3 linked regions of the Homo sapiens genome follow. The protein of the gene in region 2 purifies or fractionates together with the protein of the main gene of each other region. This does not show direct contact. Each region holds a gene or a part of one and is shown on either strand. Other genes may lie near its edges. The genes, in order: TAMM41, SLC15A1 and BDH1.

Evidence for each region.
Region 1: the proteins of SLC15A1 (region 2) and TAMM41 purify together in Homo sapiens (affinity purification with mass spectrometry; 2 studies listed by BioGRID and IntAct, with this or other methods). This does not show direct contact.
Region 3: the proteins of SLC15A1 (region 2) and BDH1 purify together in Homo sapiens (affinity purification with mass spectrometry; 2 studies listed by BioGRID and IntAct, with this or other methods). This does not show direct contact.

What each region holds. Positions count from the first base shown.
Region 1 is NC_000003.12:11,808,802-11,812,452, forward strand, and holds part of TAMM41 (phosphatidate cytidylyltransferase, mitochondrial isoform a precursor), read right to left. Parts: intron 2,097-3,651; coding exon of another isoform or gene 1,975-2,096; intron 882-1,974; coding exon 716-881; exon of another isoform or gene 1-715. UniProt on the Homo sapiens protein: Catalyzes the conversion of phosphatidic acid (PA) to CDP-diacylglycerol (CDP-DAG), an essential intermediate in the synthesis of phosphatidylglycerol, cardiolipin and phosphatidylinositol.
Region 2 is NC_000013.11:98,742,632-98,746,282, forward strand, and holds part of SLC15A1 (solute carrier family 15 member 1), read right to left. Parts: intron 1-3,651. UniProt on the Homo sapiens protein: Electrogenic proton-coupled amino-acid transporter that transports oligopeptides of 2 to 4 amino acids with a preference for dipeptides. Transports neutral and monovalently charged peptides with a proton to peptide stoichiometry of 1:1 or 2:1.
Region 3 is NC_000003.12:197,545,900-197,549,550, reverse strand, and holds part of BDH1 (D-beta-hydroxybutyrate dehydrogenase, mitochondrial precursor), read left to right. Parts: intron 1-3,064; 5' UTR 3,065-3,107; coding exon 3,108-3,190; intron 3,191-3,651.

The sequences.
Region 1 (3,651 bases), on a different chromosome or scaffold from region 2:
TGCAGCCTCCAACTGCTCAAGCGATCCTCCCACCTCAGACTCCCAAGTTAGCTGAGATTATAGGCATGTGCCACCATGCCCAGCTACTTTTGTAATTTTTGCAGAGACAGGGTCTTGCTCTGTTGCCCAAGCTGGTCTCAAACTCCTGGCCTCAAGTGATTCTCCCTCCTGGACTTCCTAAAGTGTTGGGAGTACAGGCGTGAGCCACTGCACCTGGCCTGGGTTCAGAGTTTTGGATAAACATCAGGGCAGTGCTGGGGAAAATGCTGTGGAACGTGGGCCATGTCTGAGGGAATGTACTCAACAATGTATGAGACACATCAAATGGAGTTGATTGAGGAAAGCTGTGTTCTCGATGTTATAAAAGCACAAAAAAATGCCACCAATCTCTTTTCTCAGACCACCACAAAACACAGACACATCTTTTAAATAAATTCTAGAAGTTGTGCTCTAGGAACCAAAAGAAACATTGTTTCTCCCTTTGACAGTGATTTAGGATCCAGGAATTTAAAAACAGAAGTATTTTCACCATCTTACTTCAAACAAATAAAAATGCAGATTTAGAAAACCCTCAAATTTTTAGTGCTTTCTTCTTCTGAGAGGCAATCTCTCTATCTCGCTAAACAAAAAGGAAGAAATAATACATTCCAATCACAAACAAAGTCTGCTTTTCCCCATGGCTGGCATTTCCTCAACATCAAATTCATAAACGTACCTAGTCGCACCACATCTCCACAGTCGGGATCATGAGCCACTTGGAATAAAGTTTCTTCCACATCTCTGTTTTTTCCAGGAGGGTCCATAATATGATTTATCTGTTGCTGTAAGGTTTTGGGCAATGTCATCAGCTGAGTGAACTGTCCTTCTGGGCTTTTATCTATCTGAAGGGAGGAAAAAAAAGACGACGTCTATGGAAGTGCTTTAAATCCTACAAATACTCCAAAACTCAGGGCTTCTCTTTAAAAATCACACAAACATATATGCACCCACACCCCTGGCGAGGCAGCAAGCTAAGGAAACTCTCTTTTTCTGAAACTGAATGGGTAAGTGTTCAGGAGTCTAAGTCCCTTCAAAAAGGACAATTCTTGTCCTATAATATTCCATTTCTACCTGAGAAAAGAATAGAAGCCACTCTCAAGGATCAATTTCTGACTTTTGGTTTTAAAATTTATATTTGTCTTAAATCCAGCAGTCAAAGGAAGTGGTGCTGCAGTTGACACTCGTGGAGGCCGCGTCAAATCCAGGCACTGAGATGACCCCTCCCATTTCAAACACAGGGAGACTGGCGTGCCCTGATCACATCACCAATGAGAGTAAGTGGGATCTGAATTGTGTCTCCTGCCTGTAGGGCCTTTTAGTATGCTGTATTTCACAAACTGTAGGAATACACTGATGACAGAAACTAATCTTACTTACTTTTAATCCCCAGCACACAGTAGGTACTCAAAAAACAATAAGGAAATGAGTAACTGAATCAATACAACTTAGTTGTCCTAAAGCTACTATGCCAGCGGCTTCGGTTCCCAAAGTATTCTAAAACATACTAAGGTGCTGAAGATAAATATATAAATAAAACATGTAAAACTATGTGTCAGACTTTACTCAGAAACCCTTGAATCAAAAGTTAGCCACAGAGCTGAGGCCAGACCTAGCTTTCCTAACTCCAAGTTTCATACACTGTGCCTCGTGGAATGAATTTTTAAAAATCTTGTAAACATTGATTTCCTGCCAAGTGCAGAACCAGTAACACTGCCCTCAACAGCCCATCACATTATTTCCCAAGGAAGAATCTGTCTTGTATCCTTTTAACAAATATTTAGGTTTTAACTTCAACTAAGAGAAGAGTAAGAAAAAATCAGATCAATGTATTACATTTTAGGCTTAGAGTTTACAGATAGGACGAACTTTCTTAATAATTAGAATCCACTCATTCTACCATTTTTTAAATTGAATAAATATTTATTAAGTACATACCAAATGGGCCAGGAGCACAGGTTCACACCTGTAATCCCAACAGTTTGGGAGGCTGAGGCAGGAGAATTGCTTGAGCACAAAAATTCAACATCAGCCCTAGCAAAAGAGTGAGATATCCGGCTCTACGAAAAAAAAAAAGAAAACAAAAAAAAGCCAGACATGGTGGTGCAAGCCTACAGTTCTGTCTACTTGGGAGGCTGAGGTGGGAGGATCACTTGAGCCTGGGAAGTTGAGGCTACGATGAGTGGTGATTGTGCCACTGCACTACAGCCTGGGTGACAAGACCAAGATGGTATCAAAAAAAACAAAAAAGTATATACCAAATACCTGAATTTTCTAGTTTTGTCTATAAACTCTATGAAGAGAAGGAGAAAAATGTTATTATTTAATGGCTCCATAAAGCTAGAGGGGTAAATATTTAGGTTTTTATCTAAATATTTGATATTTATCACTAGGATGGTTCTAAATTCACAGGCCCCATCCTCTACTTAGCTTTGGCTACAAAAATGACAACAAATTTGAGTATTTATGTAAAATAATCTTAGAAATGACATTTATGGACTTATGTTTTGAGGCCACATATTGGGATTAGTTAGAATAAACTTATATTTAAGTTATGCTTTACCTATGAAGCTTCCAACGGCTTGAGTGACATATAAAAAAATTAGAAAGTACTTATCTGCCACTGCTTTCTCTTGAGGAAAATAATGCACTGGAATTTTCACTTGAAAGCATGAGTGTAAAGATAAAATACCAGGTGACATGATTTAAAAATTTGGTAAATTCTCATTTTCCTTACACTAACTCTCATTAAAATAACGAAAGTGAAAGCATTCAGCTAAACTGTGAAAGTCAAATTGCATTTTAAAAGCGGACATGGATACAATTATTATATGTCAACTTAAGAAAAAAGCAGATATGGAAAAAACTTTATATGATTCCATGCATATGAACTGTCCAGAACAGAAAAATTACAGAGACAGAAGTGGATTAGTGGTTGCCTGGGTGAGGGGAGAGCTGGGGACGGCTAAAGGGTATGGAGTGACAGAAATATTCTAAAATTACATTGTGGTGATGGCTGTGCAGCTCTGTGACTATACTATAAACACTAGCTTTTATGGTGTATGAGGTATTCATCAATAAAGCTAATATTTTGTTATTATTATTTTTGAGACAGAGTCTCGCTCTGTTGCCCAGGCTGGAGTGCAGTGGCGCGATCTCAGCTCGCTGCAACCTCCATCTCCTAGGCTCAAGTGATTCTCATGCCTCAGCCTCCCGAGTAGCTGGGATTACAGGCGCACACCACCATGCCTGGCTAATTTTTGTATTTTTAGTAGAGATGGGGTTTCACCATGTTGGCCAGGCTAGTTTTGAACTCCTGGCCTCAACTGATCCACCCACCTCAGCCTCCCAAAGTGCTGGGATTAAAGGCATGAAGCTGCCATTCTCTCCCCCTGGCCAAAAGAGTAAAGAAAAAATAAAACCATATCCCAGGACGAATGGCAGAGATGAGCACCACCTGTAGACCTAAAAGATGCAAGGGTAAGGCAGATAATTTTATGTGTCAACTCAGAGCAGTGGCACAGCCTGAAGACACTGTCCTGCGAGGATGAGTTGTGCTACACATCCTGAATCAATCACCATTACGCTGTACTATATTCCCAACTGGCAGAAGAC
Region 2 (3,651 bases):
TGGGCCTGTCTCCTGGTGCTTTGAGGCCCAGCTTTGGTGTTCCCCGTCTTGTAAGAACATCACCTCCACCTCTGCCACCATACTCACGTGGCGCTTGCCCTGTGTATGAGTCTATGTCCAAATCTCCTCTTTTTACTCATTTTTATTATTGTTGCTATTTTTGAGATAAGGTCTCACTCTGTTGCCCAGGCTGCAGTGCAGTGGCACGATCATAGCTCACTGCAGCCTTGAACTCCTGGGCTCAAGGGATCCTCCCGCCTGAGCCTCTTGGGCAGCTGGGACCACAGGCGTGTGCAGCCATGTCGGCTAAGTTTTAAAATTTTTGTAGAGACAAGGTCTGCTATGTTACCCAGGCTGGTCTCAAACTTCTTGTCTCAAGTGATCCTCCCACCTGGGCCTCCCAAAGTGCTGAGATTACGGGCACGAGCCACCATGTCCAGTCCAGATTTCCTCTTTTTGTGAGGACACTGCTCATATTGAATTAGGGGCCACCCTACCCTGGTATGACGTCATCATAGTGAATTACATCTGCAACGACTCTATTCCCAAATAAGGTCACGCTCCAAGGTATTGGGGCTTTGGGCTTCAACATATGCATTTTGGGGGATAAATAATTTGCCCACAATAGTCACAACTTACTGATTTAGGTTCAGATATCCTCCTAGCTTTTAAAAAGGTTTCCACACACAACTATCTAAAATCATAGGCTGAAGAGGCCTGAAATGACCAACCTCTCGTGGTTTTATAAATTACCTACAACTTTCAGCATCTTGTTCCTGTAACTACAGGCATGAATCTTTGAACGCCATTCCTGTCCTCCTTCAGGAAGAAATGATCTCTCTGGGACCCAGGATCCAGCCACCTTTGGACATGCTGACAGACAGTTGATTTCCAACCTGCTCTCAGCTTCAGGGAAAGGTGAGCCAGACCACAGAGTGCTCCAGGGTTCACATGCAGCAAAGCTGTTTGGCAAAACAGGAAAGATCTCAGGACAGTCCTAAGTCCTGCCTCAGGTAGAGGCCGGGTAGTCAGGTGAGATGATTTTCCTGGCTGTTAGTACAGCAACCCTTGCTCTCCAAGTTAGCTTCCTGATCTACACCTGGATATTTTTAGTCTAGAAGAACACCTTTCCTTCAGAACTAAGAGTGAGACTCTCTTTAAATGCCAGACTGCCGAGGGTAAATAAACAAATATATGCTCAGGTTAAAGAGAAGAGAGACCCTTCCTCAGAGCAGACTCTAGAAGGAGAAAAGAGGAGAGAACACAAAGGGAAGCAGATACCAGCCTCCGGGACAGCATCAGCTCCCCACACCCAGCAGGCAACAGAAACGGTGGCCCTAATAATATTGTATATTGTCACAGGAGAAAATGACTCTAAAGATACATAAATGTCGCTAAATTAAAAGGAAACAAGCCTGGGCAATGTGGCAAGACCCCACCTCTACAAAAAATAACAAAAATTAGCCAGGCATAGTGGCACGTGCCTGTAGTCCCAGCTACTTGGGAGGCTCAGGCAGGAGGATTGCTTAAGCCAGGGAGGTCAAGGCTGCAGTGACCTGTGATTGTGTCACTGCACTCCAGCCTAGGTGACAGAGTGAGACTCTGTCTCAAAAAAAAAAAAAAAAAAAAAAAGAACCAATCTCTTGGTCTTTTGGAGGGTTGTTTTTCAAGGCAATGAGGTTGAAGACCCTAACTTATACACACACAGACTTTTTTTTTTTTTAATGGTAAATCATGACTAGAAAAAAATGCTTTACAATCATGGTTAAGTATGACGTTAGGGTATAAAACAGAATGCAAGTTTTCTGCCCACATGATAGATTAAAAGTAATGGCAAAGCCGGGTGCGGTGGCTCACGCCTGTAATCCCAGCACTTTGGGAGGCCGAGGCGGGCAGATCATGAGGTTAGGAAATCAAGATCAGCCTGGCCAAGGTAGCAAAACCCCCTCTCTACACAAGATACAAAAATTAGCCGGGCGTGGTGGCATGTGCCTGTAATCCCAGCTACTCGGGAGGCTGAGGCAGGAGAATCATTTGAACCTGGGAGGCAGAGGTTGCAGTGAGCCGAGATCGCGCCACTGCACTCCAGCCTGGGCGACAGAGCAAGATTCCATCTCAAAAAAAAAAAAAAAAAAAAAAAAGGCAAAAACCGCAATTACTTTTGCACCAACCTAATATTTGGGTTGCACATGGCTCTTTCCTATCATAAGAATATCTGTAAGAAAGTTCTAGACATAGAATGCTGTTAAAATATTGTGTGTATTTTAAATTTCATTAGATATTCTCTAACAATTCTCCATAAAAATGTCAGGTGACTTATTTTTTTCAGTCTTCTAATTTTAGAATTAGCATGCATAGCAGAAACAGCTATATTTTTCAAAAACCAGAAAAGTGAAACACTGCACATGAAGACTGCCTGGAAACTTTATCTGCAGGTCCACAGTACCGCATCAACAGAATGGGAACGTCGTTTTTAGAACTAGAGGTAAATCGCCTGTGTCTCCTAGATCACTTTGGGGCCTGTTTTCTACGTACCAACTCTCTTACTAAGTGGACCGTTTACAGTTGACCAGAAACTATGACCAGAAAACCCATCTGTCTTGCTGGGGGAAGGAACTGGTCACCAGACATAGCATCCGAGCTGAGGACCATGGTGGAGTTATCTTTACACTACAAATGTTTTCTACCTAAAGTCATCTATAAGCCATGGACATAGTTCAGAGAGAATACTTTCTGTTACCATGTCGGGGTGTCGAATAGTGTCCTGCCCATCCCCCCACAAATTCACATCCTTCTCAATCTCAGAACTTGACCTTATTTGGAAATAGGATCATTACAGCTGTAATTAGCTAAGACCAGGTCATACTGGGACAAGGCGGTCCCTCATCCAATGTGAGTAGAGTGCTCCTAAGAAGAGGAAAAGTGACACAGAGACAGATGGGCTGGCAGAGACGGCAGGGGTGTGTCCGCAAGCCAAGGAATGCCAAAGACCACCAGCCACACCAGAAGCAAGAGAAAGGCCTGGATCGGCTTCACCCCCAGAGCCTTCGGAGGGAGTGTGGCCCTGCTGACCCCTTGACTCTGGGCTCCCAGCCTCCAGGACTGTGAGAGAAGACTTTTCTGTTGTTTCAAATTCCCCAGTTTGTGGTGCTTTTGTTACAGACACCATAGCAAACAAGTACACCATGTGAGTTTAGGTGTCTTGATGTATTTTTGTTTTTTTTTTAACTTGTAACATTATTTATTTACCATTTTAACTTCGATTTTAGGGGTACATGTGCAGGTTTGTTATATAGGTAACTCGTGACTCAGGGTTTTGATGCTCAGATTATTTTTCCACCTAGGTACTAAGCCTAATACCTAATAGTTGGTTTTTTCCAAACAGCTCTCTCCTCCTACCCTCTACCCTCAAGTAGGCCCCAGTATGTGTTGTTCCCCTCTGTGTCTTTGTGTTCTCATCATTTCGCTGCTGCTTATACGTGGGAAAATGCAGTGTTTGATTTTCTGTTCCTGTTAGTTTGCTGAGGATAATGGCCTCCGGCTCCATCCATGTTCCTATAAAGGACATGATCTTGTTGTTTTTTTATTGCTGCGTAGTATTCCGTGGTGTATATGTACCACATTTTCTTTAGTCTATCATTGACAGGTATC
Region 3 (3,651 bases), on a different chromosome or scaffold from region 2:
CTTGTGTGACCCGGTTTGCTGCGGATACCTTGCCTCTGCTGAGAATGTTAGTACTGGGAATGCCTGCCCCTTTGAGGGGAGCCCCTGCTGCTGCCTCACAGGAAAGCCCCCAGCTGTGACCTCTGCAAGATGGTCATGTTGGAATGGAACACAGTGAGCCCAGCAGTGAGGAAGGATGCGCACGCTGTTTTCTTTTTTTCTGGAGTAGGAGTGCTTTCCATGTGTTATACCTTGACAGTGGAGCGGGCCCTTGAGAGAAGCCCCAAGTGTTTCTAGCATTAAAAAATGTCTCCAAGATTCCAGGTTGATATGTGAGCATCGTGATTTTGTGACAGTATCTTATGAGTTTGGTCCCTGGGAGTCAAGCCCCCTGTGCTCAGTCACCTCAGGGCAACTAATTACTTGACTTTCAAGGCTGAGGAGACTGAGCACCCGCCTCCCACAGCCATTTCTGTTCCCAAACTAAAAGGCAAGAAAGTGGTGTGTGAAGTTTGAGAACTTAATATTTACAGAGAATAAGGCCTGGCACAAAACATGAAGATGGCAGACAGCTACCCTGAAGAGTCTTTGGGAGCCCTGCAGTGGAAATAGCTGCATGTTTAAGAAACACGCATGCAACAGACTACATTGAGAACAGTGCATTGTTCAAGGGACTGAGTTTTTTGTGTTTTTTTTGTTTTTTTTTGTTATTTTTGTTTTTGAGACGGAGCCTTGCTCTGTCACCCAGGCTGGAGTGCAGTGGCGTGATCTCAGCTCACTGCAACCTCCGCCTCCTGGGTTCAAGCGATTCTCCTGCCCCAGCCTCCCGAGTAGCTGGGACTGTGGGCGCCCGCCACCACGCCTGGCTATTTTTTGTATTTTTAGTAGAGACAGGGTTTCACCATGTCAGCCAGGCTGGTCTCGAACTCATGACCTCAGGTGATCCACCTGCCTCAGCCTCCCAAAGTGCTGGGATTACAGGCGTGAGCCACCACGCCTGGCCAAGGGACTGAGTTTTTATGCACTTTTAATTATTTTGGCTTTAGTACTTTTAGATATGGCTGACTTCAAGGAAAACAAAATGGAAAGCAGCTGTCTATTTGGAGATCATATTAAAGCATTTTCTGCCACAGGCATTGAGCTAAGGGGTGGAAAGGACTTTAATTATAGATGACTGGATGGGAAGTTTCCCAGTGATGGTGACCTCAGACTCTGGTCCTGGGTCTTGGAGGGAGGAGGTAGAGATGTGTGTGCTTAGCCAGCTGGTCAGTACTTAGATGGTGGGAGGGGGTGCCTCATGAAAAAGTCTGAGCCAACGTGGGCCTGTGCCTTCCATAAAACCATAAAAAGCCAGTCTGGGCTCCATTCTGCTGCTCTCTGCAAGGAGCTTTCCATGGAAACTTCTTTTGTGGCCACAGGCCGACTTTCCACCCCCAGACTGCCCTGCGGGAGCCCGCTCAGCTCCCATCCACTCCCCAGGGACTCAGAGTGCCTCCTTTGCGTCAGGCTCGTTCTAGGCACTGAGGATTTGGTGGTGAACCAGGTGGAGAGGATTCCTGGTGTCACTGAGCTTAGGATCTAGTAGAAGATAAAGTAAATAAACATAATTTTGAATTAAGGTAGCTGCTATGAGAGTGATCTTACAGAGAGCAACCTGTGTGTTGAATGGGAGCCACTTTAGTGAGGGAGACAGAGGACTCAGCATCCAGGATGAGGGCAGAGCAGGAGCCGGTACTCTGAGGCAGGAACGCCCTCACGTGGGCAAGGAGTTCTTGGAGTCAGTGGTGGCTGCGACGCAGTGAGCAAAGAGGAGGGTGGCCCAGTGAGCTAGGGGCCTCCAGGGAGGGAGAGGCCAGCCCCCACGGGCATGGAAAGTTGGCTTTAAACACGGAAGTCGCATAGCTTGACCGGTGTTAAAAAGGTTTCTTGGGCTGCTGTGCTGAGAATGGGGGTGTGGCAAATAGGGGCAGGAGTACAAGCGAGAGTTTACTGTAGTTCTGGAAAGGTAACACCAGAGAGGTTTCTGCCTGCTTTCCTTTCCTGAGGATTAAACAGATTAAACGCCTCCACCTGCTTCCAGCAGAGTGCATGGCAGTGGTTGCTCAGTTAACACTGCTGACCTCTGGGCCCAGGTGGCTGGTTATCAGTAAGGTTTGGGGTGGCAGCAAACAGGCAGGGGAGGAGCCTCCCAGGCAGTACCTTATTACCAGGAACAGTATGACAGACTACAGCCAGGTAGGCAAAGGAGAGGCTGGAACCCATTTACCAGCCCGCCTTCCTTCCCTTAGGCCTGGAGGAATCACTATTAACAGAACAGGAGGGCAACGCATGCCCGTGCTGATCAGCGGTCAATAATGCTGAAGAGTCGTGGTGCCTAGCAGCCTTAAGGTGTTACCAAGAGATTCTTGTTGCAATAAGGTTGCTTTAACCTCAAATGGTGAGGGAGCGGGGAGGGTGTGTGTGTGTGTGTTAATTACAAGAGTCTCTTATTTGGCAGCTCCAAACTCTATGCTATAATGAATTACTGATTAATTCAGCCTCAGAGCCAGAGCCCCCTTGTTTGTTCGCATGGGGGAAAGAGGTGGACGGCTGAGTCAGATGCTATGTGGCATGAGGACAAGCTGCCTGCAGGGGCAGGTGGGCACCTCAGGAATGAAGGCTGATGCCCTGGGGCACCACAGGTGGGTGTTTCAGCAGGTTAGAGGAATAGGACTTACCGAGTCAGAATCCCTGAGGGGTTAGGTCCCCGAGTCTCCCAGTGGTTGGCGGGTTTGAGGATCACTGATCTGGGCCAACCTGCTCACATTATGAATGGGTGATGACTTGCCCAGGGTTGCCCAGTGTGTTTGGTGGCACAGCTAGAGCCAGAACCCAGGCTTCCAGGCACCCTGGCTCCTGACTCTTTCCATTGTGAAGCTGCAGCTTGAGAGAGGAACCAGAGTGGACTACCTGGTGGTACCAGGACTGGAGCTGGGTGGAACAGATGCAGCCCAGTTTGACTTTCACAACCTGAAAGGAACATGACTGCTCCTGATTAAAGCCCGGAAGGCAACAAAGTAATGCTGAGGGTGCATTTATGTTTCAGAACCACCGGGAGGAACTGGGCCATTCTAACACCCGTTGCTACCATGCTGGCCACCCGCCTCTCCAGACCCCTGTCACGGCTCCCAGGAAAAACCCTAAGTGCCTGTGATAGAGAAAATGGAGCAAGGTAAGCAACCAGAGGTGGTGGTGGCCTTGAGGGGACACTTTCTGAGCAGGCAGAGGTTTTCACACATGGACAGTGTAGGCGGTGATGAGGCCTGATTCTCAGAGATGTCTCTCAATACCTTTGTCTCCCAGCAGAGGAAACTCAGAGGTGTCCTGGGAAGACATTTTCCCAGGGCACACAGGGCAGAAAGGAATATCTTTCATAACCACTTATTTTTTTTTCTTTTTGATGGAGTCTCACTCTGTTGCCAGGCTGGAGTGCAGTGGCGTGATCTCGGCTCACTGCCACCTCCGCCTCCTGGGTTCAAGTGATTCTCCCACGTCAGCCTCCTGAGTAGCTGGGATTACAGGCACCTGCCACCATGCCCAGCTAATTTTTATATTTTTAGTAGAGACGGGGTTTCACCAGGTTGGCCAGGCTGGTCTTGAACTCCTGACCTCAGGTGATCCACCCGCCTTGGC